Homo sapiens: one gene and its partners. The protein of the gene in region 1 interacts with the protein of each later gene in a pairwise test. Each region holds a gene or a part of one and is shown in the gene's direction. Other genes may lie near its edges.

Evidence for each region.
Region 2: the proteins of PRPS1 (region 1) and CCDC141 interact in binary tests that used the Homo sapiens proteins (3 or more experiments, as listed by UniProt).
Region 3: the proteins of PRPS1 (region 1) and ZKSCAN8 interact in binary tests that used the Homo sapiens proteins (3 or more experiments, as listed by UniProt).
Region 4: the proteins of PRPS1 (region 1) and FBP2 interact in binary tests that used the Homo sapiens proteins (3 or more experiments, as listed by UniProt).

What each region holds. Positions count from the first base shown.
Region 1 is NC_000023.11:107,645,510-107,651,565, forward strand, and holds the end of PRPS1 (ribose-phosphate pyrophosphokinase 1), read left to right. Parts: intron 1-2,096; coding exon 2,097-2,256; intron 2,257-4,430; coding exon 4,431-4,523; 3' UTR 4,524-5,517; downstream 5,518-6,056. UniProt on the Homo sapiens protein: Catalyzes the synthesis of phosphoribosylpyrophosphate (PRPP) that is essential for nucleotide synthesis.
Region 2 is NC_000002.12:178,865,109-178,872,147, reverse strand, and holds part of CCDC141 (coiled-coil domain-containing protein 141), read left to right. Parts: coding exon 1-15; intron 16-595; coding exon 596-721; intron 722-2,842; coding exon 2,843-3,031; intron 3,032-3,942; coding exon 3,943-4,122; intron 4,123-6,231; coding exon 6,232-6,381; intron 6,382-7,039. UniProt on the Homo sapiens protein: Plays a critical role in cortical radial and GnRH neurons migration during brain development. Regulates cortical radial migration by negatively controlling the activity of histone deacetylase 6 (HDAC6) and promotes centrosome maturation.
Region 3 is NC_000006.12:28,151,882-28,158,920, forward strand, and holds part of ZKSCAN8 (zinc finger protein with KRAB and SCAN domains 8), read left to right. Parts: coding exon 1-55; intron 56-379; coding exon 380-503; intron 504-1,174; coding exon 1,175-2,136; 3' UTR 2,137-7,039. UniProt on the Homo sapiens protein: May be involved in transcriptional regulation.
Region 4 is NC_000009.12:94,558,203-94,562,846, reverse strand, and holds the end of FBP2 (fructose-1,6-bisphosphatase isozyme 2), read left to right. Parts: intron 1-2,522; exon of another isoform or gene 2,523-2,750; intron 2,751-3,694; exon of another isoform or gene 3,695-3,714; coding exon 3,715-3,909; 3' UTR 3,910-4,127; downstream 4,128-4,644.

The sequences.
Region 1 (6,056 bases):
TGTTGAGTACTCTTATTTTTTTTTCAGATTTTCTTATTTTTTAAATTTATATTGTACTAAGCTACATATAACACAATTTGCCATTTTAACTATTTTAAGTGTATAATTCCATGACATTAACTATATTCACAATGTTAGACAACCATCGCCTGATCATCAAAGTTTTTTGATCACCCTGAGTATGCTACATGCGATTGTTTTTTGTTTTAATGAGTTAAAATAAAAATCCTGAGCAGACAGGTGTGTGTGCTCATATTTTTATTTTACCTAAGCCGGAACCCTTGGTCTTACTTCTCGACTGTTTTACCGGCTGCTACTTTTGTTCATTATTACTTCTTTTTTTCACTCTAATCCTGTGATAGGTTAATGTTTATATTACTTGTCATCTCTTGCCTGCAGTGTTCTAAATTGCCTCCCCACTCTGTTCTCCATTGCCAGTCACCGTTCTCTCACCTCCCCACTCCATCTCTCCATGCTTGCTAATCTTCCTGCAACTGAGGCTCGATCCCATCACTCTTTAAGATTTTAAGTGGCCCCTCATTACTAACAATCCAAGCCACTATGAGCAGCATTGTTTCTTAGAATGGTATTTTTACTTTTATTTTTATTTTGAGACATGGTCTCACTCTGTTACCCAGGCTGGAGTGTAGTAGTACAATTACGGCTCACTGCAGTCTTGAAATCTTGGGCTCAAGAAATCCTCCTGTCTCAGACTCCCGAGTAGCTGGGACTACAGGCAAGTGCCACCACACTTGGGTAATTATTTATTATTATTATTATTATTTTTGTAGAGAAGGAGTCCCACTATGTTGCCCAGGCTGTCCTTGAACTCCTGGGCTCAAGCAATTCTCCCACCTCAGCCTCCCAAAGTGCTGGGATTTCAGCTGTGAGCCACAGCACCCAGCCCTGAGAATGGTTTTTTTAAACTTTCTTGTGTCTGTGCCTTGCACAGTGCCTGGCACATAATAGGTGCTAAAAAAAAATTGGGGTGAATGATTCTTGGTTTGGGATCCTGGAGTAAACATTCATAAAACCCATTTCATCCTTGTACAAGTACGGGAATACTAGTCGCTATAACAGATCAACTCCCTAACATGATAGTTTCCTTCTTGTCCATGGCACACTCCAATGCAAGTGTTCTTGTTGGACTCATTTTTTCTAAGCAATAGTTAGGAGCTCAGATTCTTTCAATCTTTGGTGCTATATCTTTAACATGGGGTTTCCAAGATTACCTTGGAAGACATTTCAATTTTGGCCAGCCAGAAAAGGAAAAGAACACAGAGGATCACCCCTGGAAGATTTTTGTTAAGTCCAACCAAAAACTGATGTACATTGTGTCTGCCCACATTTTAATAGCCAGAATTAAGCCACATGGCCACACTGAACTATGTGAGGGAGGCTGGGAAATGTAGTTCAGCTATGTGCCCAGAAAGAAGAGGAAGTGGATTTTGTTAAGTGCAACAGTCTATGCCAGAGTCCTTTGACACTAATTCAGACCTATTCAGATAAGTTCTTAGTGCAGTTCTTTCTCGATATGGACTGAATTGTGTCCTCCCCAAATTCATATATGTTGAGGCCTAACCCCAATGTGATGGTATTTGGAGTTACCTTGAGGGGCACGTATTTAGGATTAGATGAGGTCACTAGGGCAGAGCCCTTACAATGGGATGAATGCCCTTATAAGAAGAGAATGCTGGAGAACTGGCCAGCATTTCCCCATGCGCACGCATGCGTGCACACACACTCACACTCACACACAAAGAGGTCATCTGAGCACACAGCAAAGTGGTGGCCACCTACAAGAGAAGAGGCCTCAGCATGACACCTACTTTGTCTGCACCTTGATCTTGGACTTTAAGCCTCCAGAACTGTGAAAAATTTGTTTCTGTTATTTAAGCCACCCATTCTATGGTATTTTCTTTTCCTTAAAAAAATTTTTCCCCTAACCCACTGTGCCTTATAATATTTTTTATTTTTTTATTTTTTTTCATATGATATTTTGTTGTGGAAGCCTAAGCAGGCTAATATACTCCTCCCTGACTAAAATTCTGCAATGACAAGTAAGATGAATCCAAATCAACATTTTTTCCCTCTAGACTTCTCTCAGCTGGCGCCACCAGAGTTTATGCCATCTTGACTCATGGAATCTTCTCCGGTCCTGCTATTTCTCGCATCAACAACGCATGCTTTGAGGCAGTAGTAGTCACCAATACCATACCTCAGGAGGACAAGATGAAGCATTGCTCCAAAATACAGGTGAGGATGAGATTTGTGCAAAACAAGACTTTTCTAAGTGTTTAGGAGGTGGTTACTTACGTTGAATTAGGTCTCTGGATTCTGAAGATATCTTTCTTTGGTCTGAAGGATTTAGTCTTGTCATCAGAATTTGTGATCCAAAAGTTAACAATCACCTGTTTCTTTTCCTTTTTTTTTTTCTTTTCAAACTGCCAAGCCTTGGGAAAATCACCTGTTTAAAAGTTTAAATTGCTACACCTCAGAATCTCTGGAAGATGGAGCCTAAGATTCTACATTTTAACAGGTTCTCCCAGTGATTCTGATGCAAATTAAAGTTTTCAAGTCCATACTTTACAGTATGTGTTTGTCTGTTAACTATCGGCCCCTGTAGATATAATGTGAAACCTTTAAACTGATTGTACACTTCTACCAACTTTAGTGTTTCTCAGTGTGCTCTGGACCTAAGGTTCTTATTAAAATGTAGATTCCTTTGCTCCATCTAAGACCTATAAAACCAGAGGTCCTGGAACCAGTATTTTAAAGTAATTCCCCAAGTAATTGTTAGAAACTAAAGTTTGAGTGCTCTTGCACTAAAAGAACAAGGCCTTGCTTAATTAAAAATGTTCACATTAATCTATGAGCTTTTTGAAATTAATATGTGTAATTGGAGGATTATCATCTTTTTTTTTTTTTTTTTTGAGATAGGATCTTGCTCTGTTGCCCCAGCCGGAGTGCGCAATCAAAGCTCACTGCAGCCTCAACTTTGAAGGCTCAGGCAATCATCCTGTCTCAGCCTCCCAAGTGGCTGGCGTGCACCACCATGCCCAGCTAATTTTTTTGATATTATGTGTAGAGACGGGGTCTCCCTATGTTGCCCAGGCTGGTCTCAAACTCCTAGCCTCAAGCTATCCTCCTGTGTCAGCCTCCCAAAGTGCTGAGATTACAGGTGATGTCATTCTTAAGGATTTTTTTTCAACTTAGTCTTTTTTTTTTCCTTCATAAGGTTTTTTTGTTTGTTTGTTTTTTGTTTTTGAGATGGAGTTTTGCTCTTGTTGCCTAGGCTGGAGTGCAATGGCACGATCTCAGCTCACCGCAACCTCAGCCTCCCAGGTTCAAGTGAGTCTCCTGCCTCAGCCTCCCAAGTAGCTGGGATTACAGGCATGTGCCACCACGCCTGACTAATTTTTTATTTTTAGTAGAGATGGGGTTTCTCCATGTTGCTCAGGCTGGTCTTGAACTCCTGACCTCAGGTGATCCGTCCACCTCGGCCTCCCAAACTGCTGGGATTACAGGCATGAGCCACCACGCCCAGCCTATTCAGAAGGATTTTTAAATGCGAACCTACCACCATTTTTTTTTAGACAGGGTCTCACTCTGTTGCCTAAGCTGGAGTGCAGTGGCCTGATCTTGACTCACTGCAGCCTCAAACTCCCAGGCTCAAGCGATCCTCCTGCCTTAGCCTCACAAGTAGCTGGGACTACAGGCATACACCACAACCACGCCTGGCTAATTTTTGTTTTATTGTAGAGACAGAGTTTCACCATATTGCCCAGGCTGGACTCAAACTCCTGGGCTCAAGTGATCCTCCCACCTTGGCCTCCCAAAGTGCTGGGATTACAGGTGTGAGCCACAGTGCCCAGCCATTTTGATGAACCAAAGTCAGCGTTTTTTCTCAGTTAGCATTTTGACTCTTTCCTAAGTGGCTGTTTTGTTTTGTTTTGTTGTTTTGAGACAGAGTCTCGCTCTGTCACCCAGGCTGGAGTGCAGTGGCACGATCTTGGCTCACCGCAACCTCCACCTCCCAGGTTCAAGCAATTCTCATGCCTCAGCCTCCCGAGTAGCTGGGATTACAGGCGTGTGCCACACCATGCTTGGTTAATTTTTGTATTTTTAGTAGAGACGGGGTTTCATCATGTTGGCCAGCCTGGTCTCCAACTCCTGGCCTCAAGTGATCTGCCCACCTTGGCCTCCCAAAGTGCAGGGATTAACAGGTGTGAGCCACCGTGCCCAGCCGTAAGTGGCTATCTTAAAAATGTTATGAAGAATAGCTGAGTGCAGCCTCATGACAGGGAAACAGCACAGTGTTGCAGTTTTAAGAGGAAGGGCACTTGCCTGGCTGCTCATCAGTGTCTGCAAATTGGCCAGTCATCTCTGACCATATGATAGTAACCTGATTTCCTTTCTTGCCTTTCTAGGTGATTGACATCTCTATGATCCTTGCAGAAGCCATCAGGAGAACTCACAATGGAGAATCCGTTTCTTACCTATTCAGCCATGTCCCTTTATAATAGAGTAACTTCTGAGGCTTTTTGAGAATAAAATCCACCCCACCCTTGTTTCCCCTTGGTATTTGATGACAAATTCAGCAGAAGACCCGGCTTGCTCCAGTGTAGCTTTCTACATCCCACATCAGGTATATTAGAGCTTATCCGAACTGGGGAAAGACGGATTGAGATTAACTGCTGGGACCTCCTACCTGCATTATCTCATTCTGGCTTCCTTGATAATTCTGTGGGCCTTGCAGCTTTAACTATAGCTCAGCTGCTGCAAGATTTCAGACTTTTGAGGATGTTGTGTGAGGGTGTTTGACTGTGACTGGGGAAGCTCAGACTACTTTGTATGTGAATGCTTCAGGGTTTTCTTTGTTGAGAACAACTAGCAACAAAGGCAACCCATGTGTGACCAGTTCTCCCCAAGGTCTATGCTAAATTATAGCAAGAGCCCTGGGCAACCCCAAACCTAGTCCTGGTAGCTGAGCACCCTGTAAGGCAGGAGCAGGCAGCTCAGCTTGAGCAGACATTGGGTGGGGGGTGGGGGGTGGTTGAGGGGGGAGGCAGCACAGTGCAGCAAATGTTTCTTGGGAGGAAGAAGCCTGATCCATCACCATCTGCTTGACTATGTAGCTTGGATTCTCCTTTGTACCTATCCCTTTCGATTTGGCTTTACCTTCATCTATCTTGATCCTTTCCTGGCCAAATATCCTCTTGGGCCCAAATGAACATTGTACCATAGTCTTCTGGAAAGCAAACATGCTTCCTGCTATGTAATTGCTAACATTCATATTAGATGATGTGCTGTAGCTTGATCTTCCTTAGCCTACTGCCACTGAGGCAGTAGGTTTTAGGTGGTATCGTAGTGCCTTTTGATTAATTTAAGTATTTAATTTTCATCTTCCTTCTTTGGATCTATTTGGCCTCTCAAATGAACTGAGATTCCTGTTAAAAAAGATTGATGTTATTGTCTCTTGTAGAGGAAACTAATAAAGTGTGTGTACCTGTGTGATTTGGGGTCTGTATCATACATAATCTGTACTGATCTCTCTGCTAAAGGTTTGGTTTAGATAGATGTCTTGCTGTCCATTGATAGCTCTTATTTGTTTCCAAACTACGTTAGCTTCATTGTTAAACCAAGAGAAGACATTGGCAGCAGTTTTATTCAACTGTAAGACTAAGATGTCTGGAGTTTACTGAGAATGTGATAAGAGTGTAATTCTGTGCAGTATACCTAAATTATAGCATGTATAATGTCTGGTGGATCTCTGGTTCTTACTCCTGAAGATCCAAATTAGGTATTTTCTTATGGGAGGAGAATTTCTGTGATTTATTCATTTTGAACTAATTTTGCCAAATGTGATAATTTCCTTCCATTCATCAGTAATTGACATACGTTTGGCATTTACTTTCTTTGTTTTTTTTGATTTTTTGGTTTTTTTTTGAGATGGAGTTTCGCTCTTGTTGCCCAGGCTGGAGTGCAATGGTGCAATCTTGGCTCACTGCAACCTCCGCCTCCCGGGTTCAAGCAATTCTCCTGCTCAGCCTCCT
Region 2 (7,039 bases), on another chromosome or scaffold:
GAGCAACTTAAAAAGGTGAGGCAAGGAACAATGGGATGTGAAAAGGAATGAAATTCCGACACAGGCTAACATGAGCGAACCTTGAAAACACTAGCTAAGTGAAATAAGCCAAACACAAAAGGATAAATATCGTGTGATTCCACTTATAAATGAGGTCCCTGTAGTCAAACTCATGGAGGCAGAAAGCAGAATGTAGGTTACCAGGGACTGGGAGAGAGAGGGAGGGAATGGGGAGCTGTTAAATGGGTACAGAGTTTCTGTTTGGGATGATAAACAAGTTCTGGAGGTGGTTGGTGGTGATGTTGATTGCACATTGATGTGAATGTATTAAATATCATGCCTCTGAACTGTACACCCCAAAATGGTAAACATGGTAACTTTTGTTATGTGTATTTTACCACAATAAAACCAAAAAAGGCAGCAGAAACCAAGGGCCTTACTTCTTGGTGGTTTAGAACCCTGAGCTCATGCCACATCCTGAGTGTTTTCATGGGGTTTGAAAAATTTGATCACACTCTGCGTCATACCTAGAATGATCAAATTTGCTGGAGATGTCAAAGAAAATGCATGTGTAACTGTCCAATATTTATTTCAGACTTCTCACAACTTAAAACTTCTTCAGGAAGCACTTATGCCTGTGTCTGCACTTGACCTCGGAGGGAGCCTCCAGTTCATTTTAGATCTACGACAAAAATGGAATGACATGAAGCCTCAGTTCCAGGTGAAGAAATATATTGCTGGATTTGGGTGAATGGAAAAAATACTTAAAACTGTTTGGTTGCAGTTTACCTGATTAATTGTAACAGGCTGGTGAATTTCTATTTTTTTAAACAAAAGTATTGCTTGTCTAAAAATCCACTGTAGAGACATTTTTCTTACTTTTTTCCTGCATTCTTTTGAATTTGATGATATACCAGCATTAGGGCTATACAATGTCCTAAATAGATTTTTATATTAGATTTTTAAAATTCACATGGCTAATTAAACTAGTAATATATTTATCCTATATTTTCACTCTAATTCTTTTCCTTGGGAGTGCAGAGGTGTTTTAAATTGAGACATCTCAGAACAAGGATGGGCAACCTCGGACCCAGAGGCTCTGCTGCCCTGGGTCCCTGAGGTGACCACTGTTATGTCACTGTCCTCACCCACCAGCACCCCAGGCACGTACCATCACCCCAGGAATTTTGCTGTGCCCTCCACTCCACCTTTCAGGATATGAGCAATAAAACCATGAGTCATGTTCCTGACCCTGACTGCTTAACACAGTCCCTATTTCCCCACCTCCTGCCTCTCCAAAATGTGACACAACCGCCAAAAATTGCCACCTGCTAGTCACATTATACTTCTGCCTGGATTCTTATGCTTTGCTGCAAAATTTAGATACCTGTGTTTCTAGCTGTCACTGCTTCATAAATGTGGGCTTCAAAGAATCCCAGAATCAGAATATTGAAGATTCCTTTAGGGAATATCTAATTGTAGGTTCCTTTAAGACAAAAACCGATGTAAGTATAACCACCGCACCTGCTACACAGAAACACACCCACCATTGTAATCCACAGCAAACTCTTATAAAACTCTCAGCAAATGTGACTGGCCTATATTAGGCTCTTTAATACACCCTGCGTTATCTGCTTATATGCATTTTGTTTGTGTGCACGTTTGCATGTACGTGTAAGTTCCTCTAAATCAGGACCATTGTCACACCTCTTTAGCCCTGTCACTGTGATGCACATATATTTAATGCCCAAATGCTTGAACTTGAAGACCCTTTTTAGGTCACTCTTCTGAAAATTATCTCCTTAGTCTAAATCATTTCCATTACTTTTACCTTTCATACAAAAGATCTACACTTGAAATTATAGTAGCATTCTCTATCTTTCTCTCACTGTCTTTTTTTTTTTTTTTTTTTTTTTGAGACAGAGTCTTACTCTGTTGCCCAGGCTGGAGTGCAGTAGCACAATTTTATCTTGCTGCAGCCTCCGCCTCCCAGGTTCAAGTGATTCTCGTGTCTCAGCCTCTGGGGTAGCTGGGATTACAGGTGTGTGCCACCACGCCCAGCTAATTTTTGTATTTTTGGTAGAGACAGGGTTCTGCCATGTTGGCCAGGCTGGTCTTGAACTCCTGCCTTCAGGTGGTCCACCCTCCTTGGCCTCCCAAAGTGCTGGGATTACAGGCGTGAGCCACCATGCCCAGCCTATAGTAGCATTCTCTTTAAAGTATGCCCCTTTTGCAAATTCTATTCCAGAATCTGGATTATCTGAGCAATGCTGGGTGAAAGGCAAGGCAGTTTATCCCTCCCTACATGTGATGGCTATTTGTGGATCATGGGATGACCGCTTTTGAAGCAGTCTATCTACTATGCTGTTCAGCTGGTGGTTCATTCTGATCATTCTTTTATCACAGAGCACAAGTTATTCCCCTGATATATTTTTACACCCATCTTCTCATGGTGTTTTTACCATACCACCTGATTCTAGTCTGTATTAAATATCAGAGATAATCATGGGGCTGCATAAAATATCTAAAATACATTTACTTAACAGATGAATAGAATATTTGGTATGCCATAGAAATGTATGACTTTGTTTTTCCACCTAGCTTTGAAACCTTTGTTGCATTGCTCATGCTATTTTTTTTTGTAAATTTCTCAGGTGAGTATAGAAAAACATATCTCTATCATCCAGCACAATGCCCAAATATTTTGGAGGGTGGGGGCATTCATAATAAGTATTTGTTAACAAATGAAAGAGTGATTCATTGTTTAGACCTTTATATTGTCAGTTGTAAAGTAAAAAAGTTCTTTAATAGCAAGATTTTTTTATTGCTTTCAATGTTTTAGCAATTGAATGATGAGGTTCAGTACATTATGAAAGAATCAGAGGAGTTAACTGGCAGAGGAGCCCCTGTAAAAGAAAAGTCTCAACAACTGAAGGACCTTATTCACTTCCATCAAAAACAGAAAGAGAGAATCCAGGATTACGAGGATATCCTGTACAAGGTGGTCCAGTTCCATCAAGTCAAGGAAGAGGTAAGGCTTAGAAGGGATGTCTGAAAAATCCTGAGTTTTAAACTATGCAATTAAAAATGAATTATTATATAATAAATAAAGGCCAAATTGTGTCTTCTAGTATCAGAAGTTTACACAATCTGGCCCCTATCTTTTCTCTCACTATGTTCCTATTCTTCCTTTTGTTCCAGCCAAACTGAGCTCTTTGTCCCTCAGAGATGATGCACACATCCCTAACTCCAACCCTTGACTCTCAGGCTGCCATTATTTGACAAGTCTGTCTTTCTCCTCCCTCTTATCTAAATCCTATACCTCCTTCCAACAATCCTACCTCACTTGGAATGATTTCTCTCTCTTCAAAAATCCTACAGCTCATTGTGTATTCCACATATCTTGCATTTTACTATCTTGATTCTTAATTACTTTTTGATAAGCATAGCTTCCCGCCCACCCCCTCTCCCCCGCCCCAATTCAATTCTAGGCTCTTTGAGGGCGAAAACCAAGTTAGATTTTTTTTTTTTTTTTTTTTGCACTTCAAGTACCTGACATCATGGAGTGCTATTTGTTGGTGGCATTTTTACAAAAACTTCATAGTTATGGTCTCTATTAACATAAGATGGAGGAATATTCGTTAATATCCCTTTAAAATAGCCTCTAAATTTACTCAGAGCACAGACCTAGATCTTGCTAAGGTTTTGGGTCATGACCAAAAAGACTGTTTCCTTCTTTAATGGAACTGACAACGTTAGCAGTTCAATTTTACCACCATTGGATTTGCAGCATTCTAACATTTATTTGGCTAATGCCAACAGTTTAAAGATGGGCTTGGCAGCATTTCGACCAGCTAGCAAAATGTGCTATAGAAATTAGGCTTAAAAAAAAATTTGTCTTCATATAAAACCCAGGTTAATTGTTAATGCCCTAAATTGTAGCTGGGACGTCTCATCAAATCAAGAGAGCTGGAGTTTGTAGAGCAGCCGAAGGAACTGGGTGATGCCCATGATGTGCAGATTCACCTCCGGTGCTCTCAGGAAAAGCAAGCCCGTGTAGACCATCTCCACAGACTGGCCCTTTCCTTAGGAGTCGACATCATCTCATCAGTGCAGCGGCCTGTAAGCATCTAATAACACTATCATTTAGACTCAGTTCTAGCTGGGGCTTGGGCTAGCATATGAAAGAAACCAGGCAGATTGCTTAGTATATGTTAAATTTAAAAATAAACTAAACCATTGGGGTAGTTATTTGTGATTCATTTCTACCCTCTGACAAAAGAAAAAATTTTAAGTAGAAAATCTGAATGTAAAAGTCTTGTTGAATACCTCTATTTTCATGAAAAAAAATTTTTAAAGAGTATTTATATAGTAGATCTGTATAGTCCAGTGTGGCAGTCACTTTTTTGCCTTTGATGTGTGCCTAATGCAACTAAAAAACTAAAGTTTTAATTTTATTTAACTTGCATTAATTTAAATATAAATTTAAAAATTGATCTTCAGTATAGTTATGGGACAACTTTTAAGTATGTTGGGAGCAATTTGGGTATGGGAATCAACTTTCGAAACTGTAAATTTAAAAAATTAAAATACAGATCTAATATTTCTGATCGAAATTTAGCAACAAATGAGGAAGCTCAAAGTATGAAATACACACCAGATTTCAAAGAGGTATTATGAAAAGCAATCACATTAGTATTTTTTATATTACTTACATGTTAAAATGGTGATATTTGGACATAGTTGGTTATTGTATTATAAAAATTAATTTTGCTCTATCTTTTTATTTGATTTTTTGATATGACTACTAGACAATTTTAAATTGTTTGTGTGGTTCACATTTTGTTGGCCAGTGCTGTTTTAGCATTGCAGATCTGGAAGACCATCTAGATCTTAGAGTTCATCCAGGCCAGAGCTATCATTTTATGGATGAAGAATTTGAGGCAAACAGAAATTCCCACCTTACCCATAAAAGCCCAGAATGGAGGAGTCCAAGCCTCCTGATTCTAGCCAGGGCTGGTTGGATTTGTTTGATGCCACTGTCGGACTTCAAAAGAGAGGCCTAAAAGAGAAGGAAATATTCCCAGATCAAATTTTCATCAATAATACACTGGACATTGATTCTTTAAAAAAATTCCTTCTTTAGCCTGGGCACATTGGCTAATGCCTGTAATCCCAGCACTTTAGGAGGCCGAGAAGTTCAAGTCCAGCCTGGCCAACATGGCAAAACTCCGTCTCTACTAAAAATACAACAATTAGCCAGGCGTGGTATTACGTGCCTGTAATCCCAATTACTTGGGAGGCTGAGGCAGAAGAATCGCTTGAACCCAGGAGGCGGAGGTTGCAGTGAGTTGAGATCCAGCCATTGCACTCCAGCCTGGGCGACAGAGTAAATAAGACTCCATCTCAAAAAAACAAAACAAAACAAAAAAACAGAAACAACAACAACAACAAAACAAAACAAAAAAATCCTTTTCCAGATTTCTAACTTGAGGGGAGAAAAGATTATGTTTACTCTAACAATAGGTATAACATTAATAAAATCATAATGGCCCATTTTATTTTAAAATACATGTAAGATATCCACTAAACTATATGAAATGCAGTGAATCTAAAATATGTATTTTTTAAACTGAAAGATATAGAAATACAAATTATCTGTTGTTGTTAATGGAATTGGTTTTTTGCCAGGAAAGAGCTTTCTTTTTAAAGAGTTTATTTTATTAGTACATTTATTTTTAAAAGAAAAAGAAAGCAAGAAGTCTCACTTTGTGCAAATAATGTAAATTGTTCTCCAATCCTCTTCTGGCCTTGGCCCTGGCAGCCCCACTGTGCTGAGCTGAGATTGGAGCACTTGCATAATGAACCTGAGGTTAGGCTCAAGTTGACAGGAAAATTATAGTGCAGAAATCAAATGTTTCTAATGCATATTTTATGCCTTTTGAAGTAAAAATTATACCCTATAATGAATGGCGTCTCTGAGGAGTTGGGTGTGATGAGCGAATCTTCAACACTAGAGATTTGAGCTGGGAAATGTCTTTTCCATAATGTTGGGTGACTGGCTTCTTTCTGAAATAATTATGTTCAAATATGTTTAAGGTAAAATAAATCAGGAACCTATTTCTTTTTTTAAAAAGTGTCATTTATGAGTTTCATAATTCAGGTAAATAGCCTACTCGTCTTATTGCTGTTTCGTCCTTTCTCTCTGTTACCACCATTTGTCTCTTTTAGCACTGCTCTAATGTTTCTGCAAAGAACCTACAGCAGCAGCTGGAGCTCCTTGAGGAGGACAGCATGAAGTGGCGTGCCAAAGCTGAGGAGTATGGACGGACCCTGTCCCGTAGTGTGGAGTACTGCGCCATGAGAGACGAGATAAATGAGGTGGGTGTGGGAGGGGTGAGAACTGGCACATTGCCAAAAAGCTGTTTGAACCTAAAGCATGTGTCTAAATGTCCACATTTGTGCACACTCCCACACACATGCAAACACACAATGAATCAGGAGACTTTCTTCTCACTTATTTCTTTTAATCCACTGAGCAGTGACCTCAGGGATCTGGAAGTTTGAGTAAACTTCAAGCTCTCAAATTTGTTGAAGTCAGTATGATGTCAATGCATAGAAAAACCTATAATTCAGTAGTACAGTTTTTTTGGTTGCTTTTGTTTATTTGTTTTTTGCTTCCCCCTTCTCCCTCAAACCTGTATAGCAGTCATTTGCTTCAGTGGATACAGCTTTTTCAGGACCCAGAGGAAGGGGTGACATTGACCAGTTCGTTGCAGCCAACTCCAGCCTGCTGAAATTCTATTTAAGGGTCATTGACTCATGGTGAATCAATGGTGCCAGGGGCCAGGGAGCAGACACTTTGCTTTGGAGGCTACGAAGTATTAGCACTGAGGTCAAGTGGCTGGTTTCATATTTATTCAAACTGACTGGCTTTTCTGGCAAAACAACTCTTCAAGAAAAAAGAAATAACAGATCAAAGTGATCTTCTACATCCATGCACCTCCACATGCTTAATTCTATCTCCTCCCCCTCAACT
Region 3 (7,039 bases), on another chromosome or scaffold:
AGGAAGTTCTGGAGACCAGGAAATGACAGCTACACTTCTCACAGCAGGGTTCCAGGTGAGTTGTGCTCCTTCTCACTGAAACGCCATAGCTGTGCTTGTCAGTGTTTGTGGCATCTGCCCTATATCTTGACTGTCTAGTTTGTAGCAGTACCTACCCAAAAAGTTGTCCCAAAAATTCTTTTGCCTAGGGACAGATTGATCCTGAATTTCCCCCAGTAAATCTCATGCATTTTCCTCTTCTTCCTAGCTATTCAGATCCCTTTACATAGTACATTCCCAAGTTGTAATTCTCTCCCAATACTGGTGGATCTCTCAAGCTCTATAGGTTTGAGCTGTGGAACAGTCCCAGTCCCCAAATGGGGATCTTGTTTTGTTTCAGACTTTGGAGAAGATTGAAGACATGGCTGTGTCCCTTATTCGAGAGGAGTGGCTTCTTGATCCATCACAGAAGGATCTGTGTAGAGATAACAGGCCAGAAAATTTCAGAAACATGTTCTCCCTGGGTAAGGAGAGGTGTGGTTATTATTGTCATTTTAGATTTTTTGTTTGTTTGTTGTTTATGTGTATAGTAGCTACAGCCTTTCTGAAAGACATAGTTAAGTTTAACTCAGGATCCAGCAGAGGGATATGATGTTGAGATTTCTTGAAATCTTACGTGAAACTTTTGTTCTCCTGTCCAGAACTTCCTTACATTTTGTACCAGGGTACTGGCGTTTTTGCCAGTTGGAAATTGACATCTCAGAGGTGCTCTCTGAGTTCATATATTTCTTCTCCAAGTTGTCATGGGATTCCTACATATATTTTTCTCACATAAATTAATTGTATCTCCTCCCTTTTGATGACTGGGCATTTTCCCATTTCTGTCCTGCTCATTAGTTCTTTTAGTAGTTCCATATTCCTCTCCCCAACTTTCACCTCACTTCAGTTCATCCTTTCCTGACTTTAGTTCCCCTTCCAATTAACTCTCTTTTTTTAATGGTACCTCTTTCCCAGTTGACTAGCTCATATTAAGCAAGGTCACTATTAAGAAGCTATTTTGGAGACAGAAGTTTTGTGTTTACTTATAGCTGTTCATGTGTACTTTCCTTTTCCCCTATCTTCAGTTCCTTTCTCCTAGCATAAAGAATAGGTTGTGACATTGGCTTGATGTTTGTTTATTACATTTTTATTTCAGGTGGTGAGACCAGGAGTGAGAACAGGGAATTAGCTTCAAAACAGGTAATATCTACTGGAATCCAGCCACATGGAGAGACAGCTGCCAAATGCAACGGGGATGTTATCAGGGGTCTTGAGCATGAAGAAGCCCGAGACCTTCTGGGCAGATTAGAGAGGCAGCGGGGAAATCCCACACAAGAGAGACGACATAAATGTGATGAATGTGGGAAAAGCTTTGCTCAGAGCTCAGGCCTTGTTCGCCACTGGAGAATCCACACTGGGGAGAAACCCTATCAGTGTAATGTGTGTGGTAAAGCCTTCAGTTACAGGTCAGCCCTTCTTTCACATCAGGATATCCACAACAAAGTAAAACGCTATCACTGTAAGGAGTGTGGCAAAGCCTTCAGTCAGAACACAGGCCTGATTCTGCACCAGAGAATCCACACTGGGGAGAAGCCATATCAGTGCAATCAGTGTGGGAAGGCTTTCAGTCAGAGTGCGGGCCTTATTCTGCACCAGAGAATCCACAGTGGAGAGAGACCCTATGAATGTAATGAGTGTGGGAAAGCTTTCAGTCATAGCTCACACCTCATTGGACATCAGAGAATCCACACTGGGGAGAAGCCCTATGAGTGTGATGAGTGTGGGAAAACCTTCAGGCGGAGCTCACATCTTATTGGTCATCAGAGGAGCCACACTGGGGAGAAACCCTACAAATGCAATGAGTGTGGGAGGGCCTTCAGTCAGAAGTCAGGCCTTATTGAACATCAGAGAATCCACACTGGAGAAAGACCCTATAAATGTAAAGAATGTGGGAAAGCTTTCAATGGGAACACTGGTCTCATTCAACACCTGAGAATTCACACAGGGGAGAAGCCCTACCAATGTAATGAGTGTGGGAAAGCCTTTATTCAGAGGTCAAGTCTCATTCGACATCAGAGAATCCACAGTGGTGAAAAATCTGAATCCATAAGCGTTTAGGAACAACATCAGTTAGAGTTTGAGCATTATTCAGCATTAGGGAAACCACACACTGGTGAGAGGTCTTTCAGTGTACTAAAAGGCAGAAAGGTCATCACAACTTTAGTGTCAGAATCTATAGTGGTGGCAAAGTTAGGATAGCTCTTTAGTAATTTGGGCCCAGTGCCTTGGTGAAGGTTGATTAGCTTGACTGTCTTTGAAAGTATCTGATGGAGCTCCTGATGACCTAATGTATCCTTTAGAAATTTAAAATAGCATTAGAGCAAGTTGCTTGTCATGGCTTGAAGAGCTTAACTTTGTCTTTTGGGTGAGTAGCTATAGGTTTGAGAGAGGCTGGCTACTCCTAGTTCCTGTGCTTCTTCCCATCTCCTGTGATCCCCCTCTCCCATTTATTCCCTTGAAGGTGCCCTTGTATTCCTAATCTGATCTAAGAAGCTGCTGTAGAGTCAGAAGTAGCTTCTGTGTGAAACTTATATTTGTATGTAGCTTTCTAGGAAAATTTTACAGACACTTAAAGTATTTATGCTTAAGTGTGCATTTTTTTATTCTAATATTCCTTCTAGTCAGTGGAAATTTGTATTCCCATACAAACTCAGAATGCTATATTTTTAACAGCACTCCAGCATTTTTCTTCATGTATCACCTTCACTGACTCCATTGAGTCATTGAGCATCTGTACATATCCTTCACCACCCCCAGTCCCAGCACCTGTGTCAGTAAAGAAAGTGGACACATTAGTAATGGTTATGGGAGTAATACAGAGAAAGAGGTGAGTGGAGACTCAGCCCAGCTGCTCTTGAGCTTGGATAGTTATACATTTTGGTGACTTCTGACTCTCCTTCCACCTCCCCACTGTACACTGTGGTACAGATAGTTGGCACTATCCTAGTTATGGCATCAGGTAGGAGAAGGAGACGAAGATGCTTTAGGAAGATAAAAACCTTACAAAGAATGTATACTCATCTTTTTTGGCCCATTACAATACTGCTTTCTCAGGTTCTTAACAGCCTGTGCAAACTCCCTGACTAGATGGTCTGTCACTCCTATCATTACCTTGCACCCATCTCTTTAGATGGCCTCAGCACCTCACTCGTTATTCTCCATCTGTTTCTTGCCATTAGTTTATATGACTTTAATATCCACAGTGGTAATCTAATACCTTACCTCACAGGTTTTCATTCTTTTGAACTCTGGTGCACTCCATCTGTAATCCATGTCTATAATCTACCAACAAAGATGTACTCTTAAACTCAGTATCACCAGGCACTATATTTCATCTTTGAGGCTTTTGTTATACCAAGGAATACTATATAAAGTAATGAGACTGGTTTAAAGTAACATGCCAGAACTTACGCATCCAATGTGGGTTGTCACTTGTTATTCCCAAGTACTATTATTCCATACTACTATATTCTTCCAAATATTTGGAACACTCTTAGAATTCCCATTTAATAAACCATATGAGAAAACCCTCTATTACTCTTACACTTTAGTTTTACCATTTGAGTAGCCACTTATTCACCAGAGTTGGAATTGAGAAATTTTGGGCTTTCCAAAATTAACCTTTAAACTTAAAATTGATTACATTGAGCCTATTCAGAAAAAAAATTATATAGGTTCTGATGAAAGCTTCATAATTTCACCCTGTGACTATCCTGAAAAGAAATAATAATCATTTTATGATTGATGGGCCAAAAAAAGCAATCAAAGTCTTACGTCATAGAGGACCACCTTTTGGATCATAAATTCTTTCCCTATAACATTCCTTCTCTGCCTCTCTATGGCCCACTTTGACCACTAACAACATCAGAATTATCTACATCAATTTCATTGAGCCATTGGTGAATGAAGACACCCATCACTTGTCATGTTGGTTTCCAACAGTCCTTTCGATTATCCTTTATTTTCTTATCCTCCCTTCTCTTGTTTCTTTTATTTATAAGTTACCATTCCTAGTTTCTTTGTACTTGAAATTTTAAGAAACCAGAAACAAGTAAATCTGGTTGTATCTAGATCTTTGCTCTGTGTTTCAGTTGTGCCTTACCCTCTGTAAGATACTGATTCTTCCTGGGGCCAGTATTACCTTGTATGCAAATATTACATATGATGGGTGCATTGTCAGAGGGAAAATATATGTGTATGTACACATGTGTATGTACACACACACACACACCTGCCATACACTTTAGAAGAACGCTTCTCTTCTATTCCAATAAAAAGTCCTTTTAGCAATGCAACATATTAACAAAATTGGGTGCATTCAGGGTGGTATGGCCATAGACCAGAGCAACACATTGAAATGTATACAGATGTACTAGCTAAAGTCTCTTTATGTGTCAGTATTAAGAGTAATATGTAGCCAGATTACTTAAATCTCAGAATTACTAAGCATGTGGCATAAATTTGGAGAAAATAATATGACTAGAAAAATTAGTGTTATATTGGGTGTGAGAAAAGACTGTGTCTTGAAAGAATTATCAAAGCTGATACAGCACATATACAGAATTAGCCAAATGGTATAAGACAATAGAAAAAGGCTGTGGATTCTTTGAGGACATCACTAGAAATCATTCTTTGTCTCAAGTTCACACTCTTAGCATAGAATATTATTGACTAGGCTGTATGACATTTTGAGCTCTTAACTGTGAATGGCATTCATTAAGCTCCTTTATCCTATAGATTCTATCTTTATGTTCATCTGAAATGAACTATTCATCAGTACTTTCTCCTCCCATCCTAAGCTTCTCATTTTAGGAACTGACATGATAAGGTGGTTCTTTCATAACTCTAATGCCATCCAACATAGCCCTGGGAGAGGCATGTTAGGTTTCAGAGATTTTCTCCATGGAGCAAGGTGCAGTGCTAGAATATGGTGGTTGATTCCCAAACAGAGCAGTTAACTTTACTCTTGGTTCTGAGTCTCCAAATAATAATAGCCGACGTTTATTGAGCACTTACTATGTGCCCAACCCTGTTATGCCTTTCTCAGGCTCATGATAAATGTATTAGTCTGTTCTCATGCTGCTATTAAAGACATACCTGACACTGGGTAATTTATAAAGGAAAGAGGTTTAATGGACTCAGTTCCACATGGCTGGGGACGCCTCACAATCATGGTGGAAGGCAAGGAGGAGCAAATCATGTCTTATACATGGATGGCAGCAGGCAAAGAGAGAACTTGTGCAGGGGAACTCTTTATAAAACCGTCCGATCTTGTGAGACTTATTCACTATCACAAGAACAGCACAGGAAAGTTCTGCCCCCGTGATTCAATTACCTCCCACTTGGTCCCACCCACGACACGTGGGAATTGTGGGAGCTACAATTCAAGATGAGATTTGGATGGGACACAGCCAAACCATATCAATAGGTATTATTTTATCCCCCATTTTATAAATGAGGAAACGGAGGCTTAGTTGAGTGAGCTGACCAATATCACCCAGCCAGTATGTGATAAAACTGATTCTGACCCACACAGTTTGATTCTAGAGCCTGTTCTGACTACTGTGCTAAGGTGTGTATAATGAACATGGTAATTCTAACCAGCTTTTTAAAAATATGTAGCGCTTGTCATGAGAGGTACTGGGGAAAAGAATGTGCAGTAGAGTGCAAATACATTACAATTACTGGAAAATTGGTGGAAAATGCTTTTTGGGGTTACAATTATATCATTTTTAAGTGTTGATGCTTTGTAGTACTACAAAGCTAAATTGTGCAAACAAAACATATTTAACAGAGTAATTGGGAGGATAAAGCAATAATAAATTCAAATATATTTTTCTCCAAACTGCCAAAGGGAAAGTAGAATTGTGGAGGGAAATGAAATATCCATGTACCAGGCCAGGCAGATGGTCAGTTAGGATGACAATAGTAAGTTCATCTACAGCATAAAATGTGAAATGCTTTCATCCTCATTGCCCATTTCCAACTACCATTCTGTTTCTCCTCTATTGTTCATGGTTTTTCAAACATATCTTTGATTTTTCAACCCCCCTTTTTCATTAATCTGTTCTTAAAACTTCTTTTTACTGGCTTTCATACTTAGCATTCCAGTGAAATGTTCTTAGACTCACCAGTGGACAAATAATAAGGCCTTTTTTTATTATTATTTCTTGTCTTTTTTGATCTAATTTATATTTTATATTGTTGAATTCTCCCTCCTTTGGCTTGTGGGATCCTTTTTCTCTAATATCTGTCTTTCTTTTTTTAGTTGATCTTTCCACCCACTCCCCTTTCTCCTCTTCTCCACTGAGAATAATCTCCCTGTCTTTTATTCACTTCATTTTCTATACTCCTATTTATCCATTTTGATTGTTTATACCTACTATTTGTATTCGAATGACTTCATTTTTCCCACCCTGTGGGTCAGTTTGTGACTTTTGGAATTTTCCACAGGTACCTGTACAACTTGATATTTGAAAACAGGATTCATCACCATATATCCCCAGCCCCCGTTTTCTTTTTAAACAGGCCTCATTGCGTAATTCCTTTGCCCTGAAAAGTGTCACCACCTTTATATTTTTACCCCAGCCTTGGAGTTATCTTTTTCTGCTCTCCATTCTCCATGTCCAAAAACTTGCTGTCAGTCCAGTTTTTAATCAGTTTTCTCCTTGAGGCTTGATCTCCCATTTCTCTCATCCCATTATAGCTTTTCATGTAGATCTGAGGCCCAGGTTACTGTAATTCTTTTTTTTCCAATTTCCTTGCTCCCAGGATCCCCATCTTGTATAAAGTTTCTAAGGTGCTCCTCCTCAAACTCCATTTTTACAATATCCGTATTGTAAAATTTTCATTTTCAGTAACACCCAGTAGATAATTTTTCAAAGACGATCCTCCTCAAACACCCATTTTTACAATATCTCTATTGTAAAATTTCATTTTCACTAAGTAACACCCAGTAGAT
Region 4 (4,644 bases), on another chromosome or scaffold:
ACTTCTACTCAGAACTCAGCCAATATATCTGGAAAGGTAGTTCCTGGAAGGTCTAATTGCAACTTAATGATGCAAAACTTAAAATACTTGTATTATCAAGTGAGAACCTTATGATCCAGCTATCTTGCAGAGAACCTCCCATAAAAATGCATCTGAATTTTAGCCAATCACAGAAATCGTAGGTAAGTAGTCAAATCAAATAAAGGCCTCTGTTTTCTCTGACACACCAACAACCAGCGACACATTTTTCTGTCTCTCAGAGTCACCTTGAGATTTGAATTATTCGAATGCTAAGAATCAAAGCCACGCTGAGAGATCTCACACAGCACATGAAGCCAGAGAGATTTTAATAGGTTGGTGTATCAGGTGTTTCTCTTCATGTGAGTGCTTAGCCCAGGTGTATTCACCCACTGAACTAAGAACACTGATAAGCCTGCAGAAGTGGTGCTGAAGGAAAGCTAAGCACCATGGAGGACTAAGTGAGGCAAGTAGAAGACATGGACAATGGACATTCTTTTTTTTTTTTTTTTTTTTTTTGAGATGGAGTCTTGCTCTGTCGCCCAGGCTGGAGTGCAGTGGCACCATCTAGGCTCACTGCAAGCTCCGCCTCCCAGGTTCACACCATTCTCCTGCCTCAGCCTCAGAGTAGCTGGGACTACAGGCGCCCGCCACCACGCCTGGCTAATTTTTTGTATTTTTAGTAGAGACGGGGTTTCACCATGTTAGCCAGGATGGTCTCGATCTCCTGACCTCGTGATCCGCCCGCCTTGGCCTCCCAAAGTGCTGGGATTACAGGTATGAGTCACAGCGCCCGGCGAAGACATGGAAATTCTTAGAACCACTCTGGTCACTTACTCAGTTACATTGGGGAGAACATAAAGATCAGTTATTACTAATTATTCAAATGATCGTAAATGAGTCAGAAAATACTCACATGGGATCACATACTCATGTCCCTTAAGCACATGTCACTCCATAGATAGATCTGCGTTTGCTGCGCATAACCACCACCCATACTGAAAGTTCTGTTGGATCCTAATCTCCGCATTTCTGCTGTCATGGTCCCTGTGCCGACGTCTCTCTGTGTGTGTGTGTCTGTGTGTGCATGTGCACACTCCTATCCTGTGTGTGTCTGCATCTGTATAGCTGTGTAGATTTAATTGCAGAGAAAGTACAGGTCATGGCTGGCTGCGGTGGCTCACGCCTGTAATCCTAGTACTTTGGGAGGCCAAGGCGGGTGGATCACGAGGTCAGAAGATCGAGACCATCCTGGCTAACACAGTGAAACCCCGTCTCTACTAAAAATACAAAAAATAATTAGCCAGGCGTGGTGGCATGTGCCTGTGGTTCCAGCTACTCGGGAGGCTGAGGCAGGAGAATGGCGTGAACCTGGGAGGCGGAGCTTGCAGTGAGCCGAGATCGCGCCACTGCACTCCAGCCTGGGTGACAGAGTGAGATTCCATCTCAAAAAAAAAAAAAAAAAAAAAAAAAAAATACAGGTCACATGTCACATGGCCTGCAGGCCAAGGTGCCATGAAGCCCTGGGCATTTTGATATTAAATTTCCTACAACAGGGGCATCTGAGGTCAGAACAAAAGTAACTTGGCTCCAAGACAAGCGCATTAGGTACTAATGCTGAGCTTTTTTTGATTAAAGTAGTTGACTCAACAGGATAATTGATTACAATCTGAGACTTTATTATCTGATACCCCAAATCCCCCACATAAAAGGGGAGAAAAATGCTGAGCGCTATAAGCTGTCAAGGTGAGAGTCTCCTTGGCTAGACTGTCCTGGACAGCATGGCCTCCAGTGTCCCTCCTGTGGGTAATGAGGGACAGAACTATCTGCCCCCAGACAGCCCGCATGCACCACAACTTTTTTACACCCTTCTGGACACCCACTACTTTAAGAGCCAGAGGTCTAGGGTGAGGGCACCTTACACTGACCAAAATGGCAGTAAATACCCCCATGGAGTCTTCACCTACTTTCTCTCGAATGCCTGGATCTCCAGCCTAGACCAAAGGCATCATGTTCCTCTCCTTAATATATATAATATATACAATAGAAAAAATATATAATAACATTATATAAATATATAACATATTATATGTAAATATATATTATATAATATATAATAACATATAAATATATAATAGAAAAATAGAAAAAAATTACCATAATATATGACTCTTTCTCAAAGTAGTTTAAACATATCACCAAAACGGACTGGAAGAAAAGAATGGTAAGGAAAGGCTGCACATAGCTGGGTCAACCATTTCGTAAGGTGATAATGGAGAATGAACTTTTGGGAAGTTACACAGGTTGCACTGATGGGGAGAAAGAAGAAGATGATACTGAGTCATGCACAGCAGCAGGGCCTCGGCCAGAACGACACCCTGAATCTAAGGTGATGGGGGTGTGTGTTGTGAGTCAGGCTGGGGGCGTCATGACATCATCACAGAAATAGACCTAAAAAGTCCATTCAATCCAACCCCATTCATTTCAATTCACTGCGTACTCACAGGACACAGGCAGCCTCCTGCCAGTTCTCATGTGCCTGCAGGAGGGTTAGAGAAGGCCTTCCTTCCTCTGAACAGCAGCCCTGGATCTTGTGCAGAGACTGGCAAGCAGGGCACAGGCTGATTTCAACCCAGTTTCTGCCCTCGGCTGGGACCCCTCGTGCAGGAAACAGTGGCCTTGCTTGGACACTTTCTTCGTTTTTGAGACAGGCTCTTGCTCTGTCACCTAGACTGGAGGGCAGTAGCATGATCACAGCTCACCGCAGCCTTGAACTCCGGGGCTCAGTTGATCCTCCCACTTCAGCTTCCTGAATAGCTGGGATCACAGGTGTGCGCTACCACACCTGGTTAATTTTTAAATTTTTTGTAGAGATGGGGTCTCACTATCTCAAATGGGGTCTCAAATGCCTGGACTCAAGCGATCCTTTTGCCTCGGCCTCCCAAAATCCTGGGATTACAGGCCGGAGCCAACACTTTCTCTGTGTCGGCACTACTGAGAATACAGATAGTACAGTGACCAGCTAGGATGGACAGCAGCCTAGAGAGGAAGCCAGGCATTAAAGAGGCCTCAGTGTGATGAGTGGTACCAGAGGGGAAGTACAGGATGCTATGGGAGTGCAAACGATGGGATTTCACTTAGTCTAAGGGTCAAAAGACAAGACCATTGAAACACCGGCAAACTAGTTAGACAAGTCAAAGCTTAAGATGTGGAGTTCCTCCACACAATCCCAGCCACTGTGGCTGTCCCCAGAGAGACAAGCCGGCATGGTCAAGGTGACCTTACTGTCCCATCCAAGCTTGACTCTTTACCAGCCTTGAGGTCTCACATATAAAGGCTTCCACCAAGGCCTGCAGCATCAGTTTGCTTCTTGTTGAACCAAGAAATAGATGCCTAGATCTCATATTTCCAAGTCAAGAGGCAGGTCTCTCATAAGCACAAGGATCACAAGATGGGTAGATACATGGCTCAGTCACCTGGCCAGAGGGGCCCCCAAGGCTTCTGGATGAGTGCCATCTGATGCATCTGGCCTGCTGTAGGCTCTAAAGCTCGGGCCCACTCTTGCAAGGTGCATGGTGCGCTCATGCTAGCCAGATGGAAGCACCGCAGTACAAACTCCTCCCCCAGCTTTAGGGGCATGGCTCGGGACATTTGGCCACTTGCAGAGTTTACTCACCTGCCTCTGTTCCTCCACAGCTCCGGCTCCTGTATGAATGCAATCCCGTGGCCTACATCATTGAGCAGGCAGGAGGCTTGGCGACCACGGGGACCCAGCCTGTACTGGACGTGAAGCCCGAGGCAATTCACCAGCGAGTCCCCCTCATTCTGGGGTCACCAGAGGATGTGCAGGAATATCTCACCTGTGTGCAGAAAAATCAGGCAGGCAGCTAGCGAGTTTGACCCCACATGCCCTCTTCTGTTTGTCTTGCACCTTGTCTAAGGACCCTAAATGAACGATAAACAGAGATGGTAGCTATGAGTATACAAAAGGTAAATCCACTTAATCACATACAGAAGAGCAACAACAAACTGCTTACGACAGGTTTGGAAGCCACAGGCGATTCTATGGTCAATGTGAAGGACTAGAAATAAAAACCCACATGTGGAAAGTGCGACTTTGGCTTGTCTTCTGTCAGAAACAGTGGCAAATATGGTTATAATTCCGTCTGTCAACCCACATAATTGGCGGCTGCATGCTTGTGGGCAAAGAGTACATAGATTAGTTAAGAATTTGTCAGCTGGGTGCGGTGGCTCATGCCTGTAATCCCAGCACTTTGGGAGGCCGAGGCCAGCGGATCACGGGGTCAGGAGATCGAGACCATCCTGGCTAACACGGTGAAACCCCATCTCTACTAAAAATACAAAAATTAGCCGGGCGTGGTGGCGGGCGCCTGTAGTCCCAGCTACTCGGGAGGCTGAGGCAGGAGAATGGCGTGAACCCGGGAGGCAGAGCTTGCAGTGAGCCGAGATCGCGCCATTGCACTCCAGCTTGGGTGACAGAGTGAGATTCCATCTAAAAAAATAAAAAATAAAAATTGTCTTGATTGGCTTGAAATTTGAACCTAGTGTCTTATCCTGTAGTGATTACCTCCCTCAAACACATGTAAATTTCCAACTTAATATCTT